Homo sapiens: one gene and its partners. The protein of the gene in region 1 purifies or fractionates together with the protein of each later gene. This does not show direct contact. Each region holds a gene or a part of one and is shown on either strand. Other genes may lie near its edges. The genes, in order: ITM2B, HS6ST1 and UBR1.

Evidence for each region.
Region 2: the proteins of ITM2B (region 1) and HS6ST1 purify together in Homo sapiens (affinity purification with mass spectrometry; 2 studies listed by BioGRID and IntAct, with this or other methods). This does not show direct contact.
Region 3: the proteins of ITM2B (region 1) and UBR1 purify together in Homo sapiens (affinity purification with mass spectrometry; 3 studies listed by BioGRID and IntAct, with this or other methods). This does not show direct contact.

The regions. Positions count from the first base shown.
Region 1 is NC_000013.11:48,253,630-48,257,281, forward strand, and holds part of ITM2B (integral membrane protein 2B), read left to right. Parts: intron 1-178; coding exon 179-307; intron 308-2,547; coding exon 2,548-2,754; intron 2,755-3,652. UniProt on the Homo sapiens protein: Plays a regulatory role in the processing of the amyloid-beta A4 precursor protein (APP) and acts as an inhibitor of the amyloid-beta peptide aggregation and fibrils deposition. Plays a role in the induction of neurite outgrowth.
Region 2 is NC_000002.12:128,312,299-128,315,950, reverse strand, and holds part of HS6ST1 (heparan-sulfate 6-O-sulfotransferase 1), read left to right. Parts: intron 1-3,652. UniProt on the Homo sapiens protein: 6-O-sulfation enzyme which catalyzes the transfer of sulfate from 3'-phosphoadenosine 5'-phosphosulfate (PAPS) to position 6 of the N-sulfoglucosamine residue (GlcNS) of heparan sulfate.
Region 3 is NC_000015.10:42,945,650-42,949,122, reverse strand, and holds part of UBR1 (E3 ubiquitin-protein ligase UBR1), read left to right. Parts: intron 1-3,473. UniProt on the Homo sapiens protein: E3 ubiquitin-protein ligase which is a component of the N-end rule pathway. Recognizes and binds proteins bearing specific N-terminal residues that are destabilizing according to the N-end rule, leading to their ubiquitination and subsequent degradation.

The DNA of each region.
Region 1 (3,652 bases):
AGATGAGCCCTGGAGCTACCACTTAATCATTCCTGGGTTGATTTTGATGAGAGACACAACTCCTTTGGTCTTTGTGTCTTCATTTATTAAAATGATAATCATTAAGGTTTTTCTAGTCCTGAGCCTTCTGTTATTCTGTCTGGAGATAAGATATTTAACTGTCTTTTTCATATTTTAGGACCCAGATGATGTGGTACCAGTTGGCCAAAGAAGAGCCTGGTGTTGGTGCATGTGCTTTGGACTAGCATTTATGCTTGCAGGTGTTATTCTAGGAGGAGCATACTTGTACAAATATTTTGCACTTCAAGTAAGTGGAAAAATTATTTTGTGTCTCTGATTTTTTTTTTTTTTTGCCTCTCCCGATGTGCATTACAAAATTGTTTACAACTTGCGCTAAGCTTGTACTTTTTATCTGTGACCTTCAGCCAGAGTGGTAGTTCTATTTTAAAGCTGTGTTTAAACATCTCTCCATGATATGTTTGCTGAGCCCATCACACACAGTCACTAAAAGCAGAGTAACTTGAAATGTTGGTGACTAAGGGATTTATTTAGGTCATTGGGTGATTTTACTAACCTTTATTTTCCTACTATAATTAAGGGTTGAGAGGAATAGTATTATCAATTGCCAGTTGAATAAATACATCAGCCACAAATGTTTTCATGTTGATAGGCCATAACTTGATAGTCAGCTTGGACTCCCCTATGGTCCTGCTGTACCCTTGGGCCCAGAATACAGTAAGACCATGTCTCTGCTTCTTTTCCAGTCATGGTTTCACTAAAGAACTGGGTGACTTCAGCAGTGATATTGAAATAACATAGGATGAAAGTTGTTTATAACTTTGAGTGTTTAATAGTAATCCCAGTGGGTTAAGACAAAGGTCTTCCTTGTGATTGATTATAATTTACAATCTATTTTGTAATATATTTCTCTTGGCAATAATACACAATTTTTTTTTTTAGGAGTTTTGAAGGGGAAATTACTTTCAAGGTTTTATGACTACTTCAGCTGTTTCAAAATTTGGAGAAACAGTTGACAACTAGACTTATTAAAATAATTTAACTAATTTTGAAACATTCTCAATTTCATGCTCATTTTCTGTGTTGTTCAAGATAATCAATCACATGTTGATAGACATTACCAAAATACTAGTCATCTTTTTAAATACAGTTTTATTTACAAGAAATACATATAGTATAGAAAAAATCATCGCAATTCCATTTTCCAGAGATAACATTTGGTGCATTAACTTTTTTTTTTTTCTTGAGACAGAGTTTCTCTCTTGTTGCCCAGACTGGAGTCCAATGGCGCGATCTCGGCTCACTGCACCCTCTGTCTCCCGGGTTCAGGCAATTCTCCTGCCTCAGCCTCCCAAGTAGCTGAGATTACAGGCACCTGCCACCACTCCTGGCTAATTTTTGTACTTTTAGTAGAGACAGGGTTTCATCATGTTGGCCAGGCTGGTCTCAAACTCCTGACCTCAGGCGATCCACCCACCTTGGCCTCCCAAAGTGCTAGGATTACAGGCGTGACACACCATGCCTGGCCCTGTGCATTCACATTTTGTATACCCTTAGTCTTTATTGTGTGTGTAGTGTGTGTAGTGTGTGTGTGTGTGTGTGTGTGTGCGCGCGCGTGTGCGTGCGCGCACGTGTACATGTACTGTGTGTTTGGCTTTTTTTGAGATGGGGTCTCACTCTGTCATCCAGGCTGGAGTGCGGTGGTGCAATCACAGCTCACTGTAGCCTCAACCTCTTGGGCTCAGGCAATCCTCCCGCCTCAACCTCCCCAGGAGTAGCTAGGACTACAGGTGCGTGGCACCATACCCAGCTAATTTTTTTATTTTTTGTGGAGACAGGGTCTCACCATGTTGCCCAGGCTGGTCTTGAACTCCTGGGCTCAAGCAGTCCATCTGTCTCAGGCCTCCTCCCCACAAAGTATTAGGATTACAGGCATGAGTTACTGCACCCGACCTTATGTACTGTTTTTTCTTTTTGTAAAAGTGAGACAGTAGCATAAAGATTTGCTGTAATCTAATATTTTCCACTGAATTGTGATATAAAGGGAAAAGTAGAACTACGTATATGCATATAGAAATTTCAGAAAAATTATCCCTTTTTTGGCTAATAAGAAAAAAGTCATTTAATTAGTAGACCATATCAAAACTTTTTAATATATTCTTTCAGAAAAACTTGACTAGTTTTGGAATGTATTCTTCTATAAAAACTGCTTACAGGTAGAGTAGGTCTGTTGTTTCTTTATATTTATTTGTTACTGGATAGCTAATTATTTTTATGTTCTATTTTCACCTACCAGGAAAAGTAAAGGGAAAACCAGCTGCCTTTCTTCTGAAGCTGTTCTTTTACAGTGCTTCAAAACCTGATCTTAAAGAATATGTTAACTCTGTAATTAAACTGTCTGACTTGTCATCTAAAAGCAAGAGTTTGCAAGCAAAATGCTATTTAGATAGAGGTGGCAGCTTAAGTAATGCTTATTTAAAAACCTGTCTCATGCTGAATTGCTGAAATGAGTCTTTAAACTCTCTATAGCCAGATGACGTGTACTACTGTGGAATAAAGTACATCAAAGATGATGTCATCTTAAATGAGCCCTCTGCAGATGCCCCAGCTGCTCTCTACCAGACAATTGAAGAAAATATTAAAATCTTTGAAGAAGAAGAAGTTGAATTTATCAGTGTGCCTGTCCCAGAGTTTGCAGATAGTGATCCTGCCAACATTGTTCATGACTTTAACAAGGTGAGCCAAGTGTCCAGAATTGTAGAAAGAATGCAGGTTCTGTAGTTTATGCTTTTTGTAGTTTTAATTTCAATATTTGCTAATTTATTATATTTAGAGTTTAGTTTAATAAACTGTCAGCATTTGGTGGGCTCTGCTATGTCTGAAGCAGACCCTGCTGATGCAGCCTTCTCATATCTTATCTCTCCTTCCCCTTGCCTTACCTACTCTTAAAGCCCACCTCATGACTGTTCCTCCTTTGCTGGCAAACTAATATTTTTTATATGTTCCCACATTTTCTTAGATAAGAGGTAATTTATGTTCCTGTTTCTTGGTAGCATTTTCAAAATCAATAATTTTGTTAATCTGTTTTTAAGTTCTCATTCTATATTTTTCCCCAGCTTTTGAGCATTTTTATGTAATGCAGAAAAGTTGAATACCCAAAATCCTCCACTTTGTTCCAAATATTGCCATATTTGCTTCATCTCTTTTTCTGTCATTTGACATAAGTACTTATGCTATTATCTCTCAAGAATGAGTTGTCCTCCTACGTAACCACATAATTATCACATCTAAGAAAATTAACATGATCTTATAGGACAGTAGTCCCCCCTTATCCGTGGGGGATACATGCCAAGACCCCCAGTGGATGTCTGAAACTGCATATAGTACCAAACCCTGTATATACTATGTTTTTTCCTGTTAGTGTACATATATACATATGTTAAAATTTAATTTACAAATTAGCCACAGTAATAGATTAACGACAATAATAATAAAACAGTTATAACAAAATACTATAATAAAAGTTATGTGAAGGTGGTTTCTCAAAATATTTTATTATGCTGTACTCACCTAGGTATTTGTGGACTGTAGTTAACTAAAGGTAACTGAAACTCGAGAAGCACAACCTCAGATA
Region 2 (3,652 bases), on another chromosome or scaffold:
GCCACCCACTCTGGAAGTGGGTTGTGCTACCGGGCAGGTGACAGCACCCCACCCTCCGAGTCCCTCTTCTCCGCCTCCACTCCCTTCAGTTCTGTTGCAGGCACTAGGTAGATTGCTTTTTTAATGAGCTTCATCAGGAGGCCAAGGTAATCTTGCCTTTGTGCTCGCAGGGCCAAGCTGCACTGAGGTCCACCTGCTGAGCGCTGCCCCGCCACCTGAGTCTTCTGGCCCAGGCTGGAGCTGGGCTAAGCTGCTCTGCTGTGGCGGTTGGGATGCACTTCCCCCATCTGCCCAGGGACCCAGCAACTCTCTATCAGGGGCAGTGCCCATCCCTGCTGGGGTGCCTCATGTTAAGTGGGCTTGGTGTCAGGAGACTCAGGTGTCACCCTGGCCCTCCTGCGATGTCTTCACTCTGGCTCTGCACTGCCATCTCCGTGTTCTCTGGGGACTGAGACCCTCTTTTCCTTCTATCTCTGCCTGCCTCCCTGCCCAAGGCTGGCTCCTGGAACCTCTCCACCAAGCCCCTCCCATTCCCTGCTGCGGTTTGGGAGGGTCTCAGTGGGCCTGTGGTGCGCGTAAGAGAGGTGGGGCTCTTCCCGGCTGCCAGCCTCCCCATTGCACAGTATCAGCCTGGGCTGCTCTGAGCTGGGCATCCATGGAGATGGACAGGTTTTTGATGTCTTCCTGGAATATGGTTTGGAACTTCTAGTGGCTGTTAGTGCTTGGCTGCCTTGGTAGAAAGGAACAAGAGTGAGCAGAGCATTGGCGGGTCCCTGTTTAGTCCTGTGTTCACCATGGGGGCTGCCTCATCTGCCGACATCAGCCAGGGTGCTTGTAAGACTCCACTGGAAGGACGTTTGCTGGCTGGCCTTAAAGAGGTGTGGCCATCCCCAGGCAGCAGCCAAATGGCCAGCCATTCCAGGGACCACTCGGTTAGAATGTCTCAGCACCCCACACTCCGCTGTCACTCAGAGGGTCCAGATGGTGCTCCAGAGCCAGAACCTCCCTCCTTCCTCTTCCCGTCTGCCTGAAGGCAACGCAAGAACAGGCATGGTCAAGGTCTTGCCCGGGCCACCCTGGAAATGTCCCTGAAATCATGTGGGCTTCATTTGGGGCCACGGAGGGCATCTGGAGCCCAAGTGTGGCATCTGGGCCACCTTGGCCGGGAACCCGGGACCAGCTCACATCCTCTCTGCACCAGGGCCTCTCTGGAGCCCTTAGTGGGCTCGCAGCCTCTGTGACGTTGCCCTGCAGAGACCAGTGCTTCCTTGCTGGAGGGATGGCGCAGGAGCCCGCAGCCTCGCCTTTGACCTGCCCTCCGTGATCCTGAAGCCTTCTCAGACTCCAGAAATCCGCCTGGTGCTGGACCTGTGTGCCGTCCACCTGGTGTGCCTGCTCTCCTCTCCCACTTTTCTGCCTGCTCCTCCCCTCCCTTCAGTCTGCTCAGATGCCCCTTCCTCCAGGAAATCTTCCCTGGCTTTCTGTTCCTAGGCTCCCCTGTTGCCTTAGGCGCCTCGACTGCTGTCCCATCTGACACCGTGCCACCTTGGCACTGCCCTCATGCTGGCACCATGGGAATTTTTTTTTCCTGGACTCTGCAGGATCTGGGCTCTGTCCCTGCCCTTTCCCTGTGACTCAGGTTCACGGAGTCAGTCTTGAGTGTCATGGTGTTCCCTGAGAACCTGGGGACTCCTTGGTGGGGCAGACCAGGTAGGGGTGGGCTTGGATGAGAGCCTTCGTTTCTGTGGCATGCGACAGTTTCCACCTTACCTTCATAATCGCTTTCTTCTTTGAGATCAAGGGAGAAACCCTCATCTGCTGTGATGGGGACAGATGTTACCCAGAGCATGTGACTGGGGCCAATGAACAGGACCTGGGGACCAGGCTGGGGGTGTCACTGTGCCTACATTGCCTAGAGAGGCCTTTGGTTAAGATGAGAAGGGAATCTGTGGTCAAGATGCTCCTAGATTTTCACTAAAAATAGATAAAAAATCCTTTTTTTTTTTTTTTAAGCAAACACATGATAAGGCAAACTTACGAATGGTTGGGTGACAGGATCGTTTTAGATGGTCCTCTAGCTTGGGGGATCATTTCTGCCATGCTGCTCTGGTGGTCTTCAAGCCACAGCTTCCTGTCCTAGGCACTTCACGCATAAAACTGGGGCCTGGGGACTCCTGCTCCTGGATCAGAGAGCCCAGTCCCAGAGAGTGCAGTGCCCACCTTGGTCCCTAGGGCCAGGGAATCCAGGTTTCTTTCTCAGCAGGAGTTCTGGCTGCCACACGGGGGAGTGGCCACCTTGGGTCTGGCATCCTCCAGGGCCCAGGAGGGAGGAGGAGAAGGGGCCTGGTCTTGTCGTCCTTCGGGGAGTTGGAGGCTTTTGCTCTCACACCCCGCTTTGTTGTGGTTATAATGATTGTTTGGTAGATGAGTGGGAGGAAAGTATGAGGCAGAGGGAGAAAAGGAAAATCATCCATTCCCCATGCATGGTTTTTCCACTGTAATTGAAGCCATCATATAAATTTCACCATAAATGTTGTCTGTTGTCATTAAAAACTTAATATTTGAGTGGCTGCAGCTGCTCCGCTCTGAGTGTGCCACCGCTGGTTGGCAGTGGGTGAGTGCGCAGGTTGCTCATTCTGTACTCTGTGGGGACTGCTGCAGGACTGCTCCTTGTGTGTAAATGTTCTGCATAGCTCTGATTTCCTCTGGAGATTCCTAGGAGTGGAATTTCTGAGTTGAATAGTCTGAATGTCTTTACTGCTCTTGGTACAAATGTTACCTTCCTCTTCAGAACACCCACTCCTGGTATGCTCCCACCTGTGGTCTGTGAGCACCCATGTCAGTGGCACACTCATTGGTACTGAATAGCATGTGAATTTTTTTTTTGAGATGGAGTCTCACTCTGTCCGGTGCAGTCTGGACAATGATGGCACGATCTCAGCTCACTGCAACCTCTGCCTACCAGTTTCAAGCGATTGTCCGACCTCAGCCTCCCACGTAGCTGGGATTACAGGTGCCCGTCACTACACTTGGCTAATTTTTTTTATATTTTTAGTAAAGACGGGGTTTCACCATGTTGGCCAGGCTAGTCTCGAACTCGGGACCTCAGGTGATCTGCCCGACTTCGCCTGCCAAAGTGCTGGGATGACAGGTGTGAGCCACCGCACCAGCCTATTGTGAATTTTTTTTTAAATTTATTCTCTTAAATCACCGAAAAGTGCTAATCTTATGGTTTTTATTGCAAAGCCTTGCCCAATGAGTACACCCTTGGGGTGGCCCATCTATGTAGGGCACTTGGGAGCAGCCATGCCCAGTCACCCACATGTCGCCACCTGCTCACAGGTGGCTGAGTTTCACCCCTGCTGAGAGAGGGGTGCAGCTCCCAGGGGCCTGGGGTGCACCCTCTCTGGGTGCCCATCACCATCCCATGTGGCATTTTGCGGGACTGAATTCCGCCTCTATGAGGAACAGGCGTGACAAGCCATGGGGGCATGTAGAGAGGCTGGCAGGGTGACTCTTGTCCCCTGCACACTTAGCAGGCACTTGGAATGGGTCATCTTGTTTGGACCCAACACTCCCCCAAGACAAGTATATGAAGAGCAGCCCCATTTTCCACACAAGGAAGTCAGGCCCCAGAGAAGGTGGAGAATGT
Region 3 (3,473 bases), on another chromosome or scaffold:
GGACATGAACTCATCCTTTTTTATGGCTGCATAGTATTCCATGGTGTATATGTGCCACATTTTCTTAATCCAGTCTATCGTTGTTGGACATTTGGGTTGGTTCCAAGTCTTTGCTATTGTGAATAGTCCCGCAATAAACATACGTGTGCATGTGTCTTTATAGCAGCATGATTTATAGTCCTTTGGTTATATACCCAGTAATGGGATGGCTGGGTCAAATGGTATTTCTAGTTCTAGATCCTTGAGGAATCGCCACACTGACTTCCACAATGGTTGAACTAGTTTACAGTCCCACCAACAGTGTAAAAGTGTTCCTATTTCTCCACATCCTCTCCAGCACCTGTTTCCTGACTTTTTAATGATTGCCATTCTAACTAGTGTGAGGTGGTATCTCATTGTGGTTTTGATTTGCATTTCTCTGATGGCCAGTGATGGTGAGTATTTTTTCATGTGTTTTTTGGCTGCATAAATGTCTTCTTTTGAGAAGTGTCTGTTCATGTCCTTTGCCCACTTTTTGATGGGGTTGTTTGTTTGTTTCTTGTAAATTTGTTTGAGTTCATTGTGGATTCTGGATATTAGCTCTTTGTCAGATGAGTAGGTTGCGAAAATTTTCTCCCATTTTGTAGGTTGCCTGTTCACTCTGATGGTAGTTTCTTTTGATGTGCAGAAGCTCTTTAGTTTAATTAGATCCTATTTGTCAATTTTGGCTTTTGTTGCCATTACTTTTGGGGTTTTAGACATGAAGTCCTTGCCCATGCCTATGTCCTGAATGGTAATGCCTAGGTTTTCTTCTAGGGTTTTTATGGTTTTAGGTCTAACGTTTAAGTCTTTAATCCATCTTGAATTAATTTTTGTATAAGGTGTAAGGAAGGGGTCCAGTTTCAGCTTTCTACATATGGCTAGCCAGTTTTCCCAGCACCATTTATTAAATAGGGAATCCTTTCCCCATTGCTTGTTTTTCTCAGGTTTGTCAAAGATCAGATGTAGATATGCAGCATTATTTCTGAGGGCTCTGTTCTGTTCCATTGATCTATATCTCTGTTTTGGTACCAGTACCATGCTGTTTTGGTTACTGTAGCCTTGTAGTATGGTTTGAAGTCAGGTAGCGTGATGCCTCCAGCTTTGTTCTTTTGGCTTAGGATTGACTTGGCAATGCAGGCTCTTTTTTGGTTCCATATGAACTTTAAAGTAGTTTTTTCCAATTCTGTGAAGAAAGTCATTGGTAGCTTGATGGGGATGGCATTGAATCTATAAATTACCTTGGGCAGTATGGCCATTTTCACGATACTGATTCTTCCTACCCATGAGCGTGGAATGTTCTTCCATTTGTTTGTATCCTCTTTTATTTCATTGAGCAGTGGTTTGTAGTTCTCCTTGAAGAGGTCCTAAACGTCCCTTGTAAGTTGGATTCCTAAGTATTTTATTCTCTTTGAAGCAATTGTGAATGGAAGTTCACTCATGATTTGGCTCTCTGTTTGTCTGTTATTGGTGTATAAGAATGCTGGTGATTTTTGTACATTGATTTTGTATCCTGAGACTTTGCTGAAGTTGCTTATCAGCTTAAGGAGATTTTGGGCTGAGACAATGGGGTTTTCTAGATATACAATCATGTCATCTGCAAACAGGGACAATTTGACTTCCTCTTTTCCTAATTGAATACCCTTTATTTCCTTCTCCTGCCTAATTGCCCTGGCCAGAACTTCCAACACTATGTTGAATAGGAGTGGTGAGAGAGGGCATCCCTGTCTTGTAGCACATAATTTTCAACAACTTCTCCAAAATTTGAAGGTAGTGTTTCCCCAAAATTTTTAAAGACACCAGCCATCTTAATGTTTCAGTGTTCTATTGTTTGTAATCAACCTTTCTTCAGAACTACTTAAAAGGATTGACACTGATAGTATAAGTTTGTAGTGTCCAGTGATGAAGTTTGTTTTAGAGATATTGTTTCCATTGCAATACTTGAAACTTTTTTTTTCTTTGTTTTTTGAGACAGTCTCTCACTCTGTCACCCAGGCTGGATCTCGGCTCACTGCAACGTCTACCTCCAGGGTTCAAGCGATTCTCCTGCCTCAGCCTCCCAAGTAGCTGGGACTACAGACATGCACCACCACACCCGGCTAATTTTTTTTGTATTTTTAGTAGTGACGGGGTTTTACTGTGTTGGCCAGACTGGTCTCGAACTCCTGACCTCAGTTGATCTGCCCACCTTGGACTCCCAAAGTGCTGGGATTACAGGCATGAGCCACTGCACCCAACTGAGACTTTTTATTAGCCAGCTATATCAGCCTTCTTTCCTTCTGAGCATTAACAAAATATTTAGAATCCTGAACTTTTCTGTATCCTTCCCTGGTGGTAGGAACTGGGGTCCTACTGATGACTTATGAAAATGAGGAGACTGACAGTGATCTCAAAAGTACATATAGATAAAGATTAGACCTCCTTACAATAAACTCTTTTTGGTTCACTGAAATTTTGTTCCTTTGAAATATTGCTCAGAAAGAATACACTTATTAGATGGGGCTTGGGACCTTGGATCACACAGAGCTTTCTTTTTATTGGGATGACATTTGACCTGTCTTTAGGTTTAGGGAGAAAAGCAGAGTGGTGAAAGTAGTTAATGACTGAGAATCTTAGTTGTTCCACAAGGGTACAAAGCAGAGTTTTAACATTAATTTGGCAGTTTAAAAATCCCCAACCAGGCGGCCGCGGTGGTTCACGCCTGTAATCCCAGCACTTTGGGAGGCCGAGGCGGGCGGATCACGAGGTCAGGAGTTCGAGACTAGCCTGGCCAACATTGTGAAACCCCGTCTCTACTAAAAATACAAAAACAATTAGCCAGGTATCGTGGCGGGCACCTGTAATCCCAGCTACTCTGGAGGCTGAGGCAGGAGAATTGCTTGAAACTGGAAGGCAGAGGTTGCCCTGAGCCGTGATCGTACCACGGCACTCCAGCCTGGGCAAAAAGAGCGAAACTCCATCTCCAAAAAACAAAAACAAAAACAAAAAAAATCCCCAACCAGCTGAGAGACTTGAATGTCTCAAGGAATTAGGATCTCACAGTTCTCCGTTACTGGCAACAGCCAGACTTAAGTCATTTTGGATTAGCTGTTATACAGTGTTAAAAACTGTGCAACTCTAGAATTGAAGTATAATTATTTTATTAAATTATTTGCTAATAACCAGCCAGTTTTTTGTATCGTAAGGACAGTTACAACCAAATATCTCTGAGTAGCAAAATATAATTTTAGGGCCTAGTGTTATACGTCAGGCCTAACCTCTACTGTGCAAAGATCATAAATTGAAGCTAGATAACAATATGAAGCCAAAAAGCTATTCAAGCTAACCACCAAAAAAGAATAGTGCTGCTTCAAGTTATAAACCTCAGTGACCATTTAAGTGAGGTCCCATAATGCCATAATATACCTGACCTATTTTATGAATGGTCAAGGAGTACATTTCTGCTTTATTAGCTA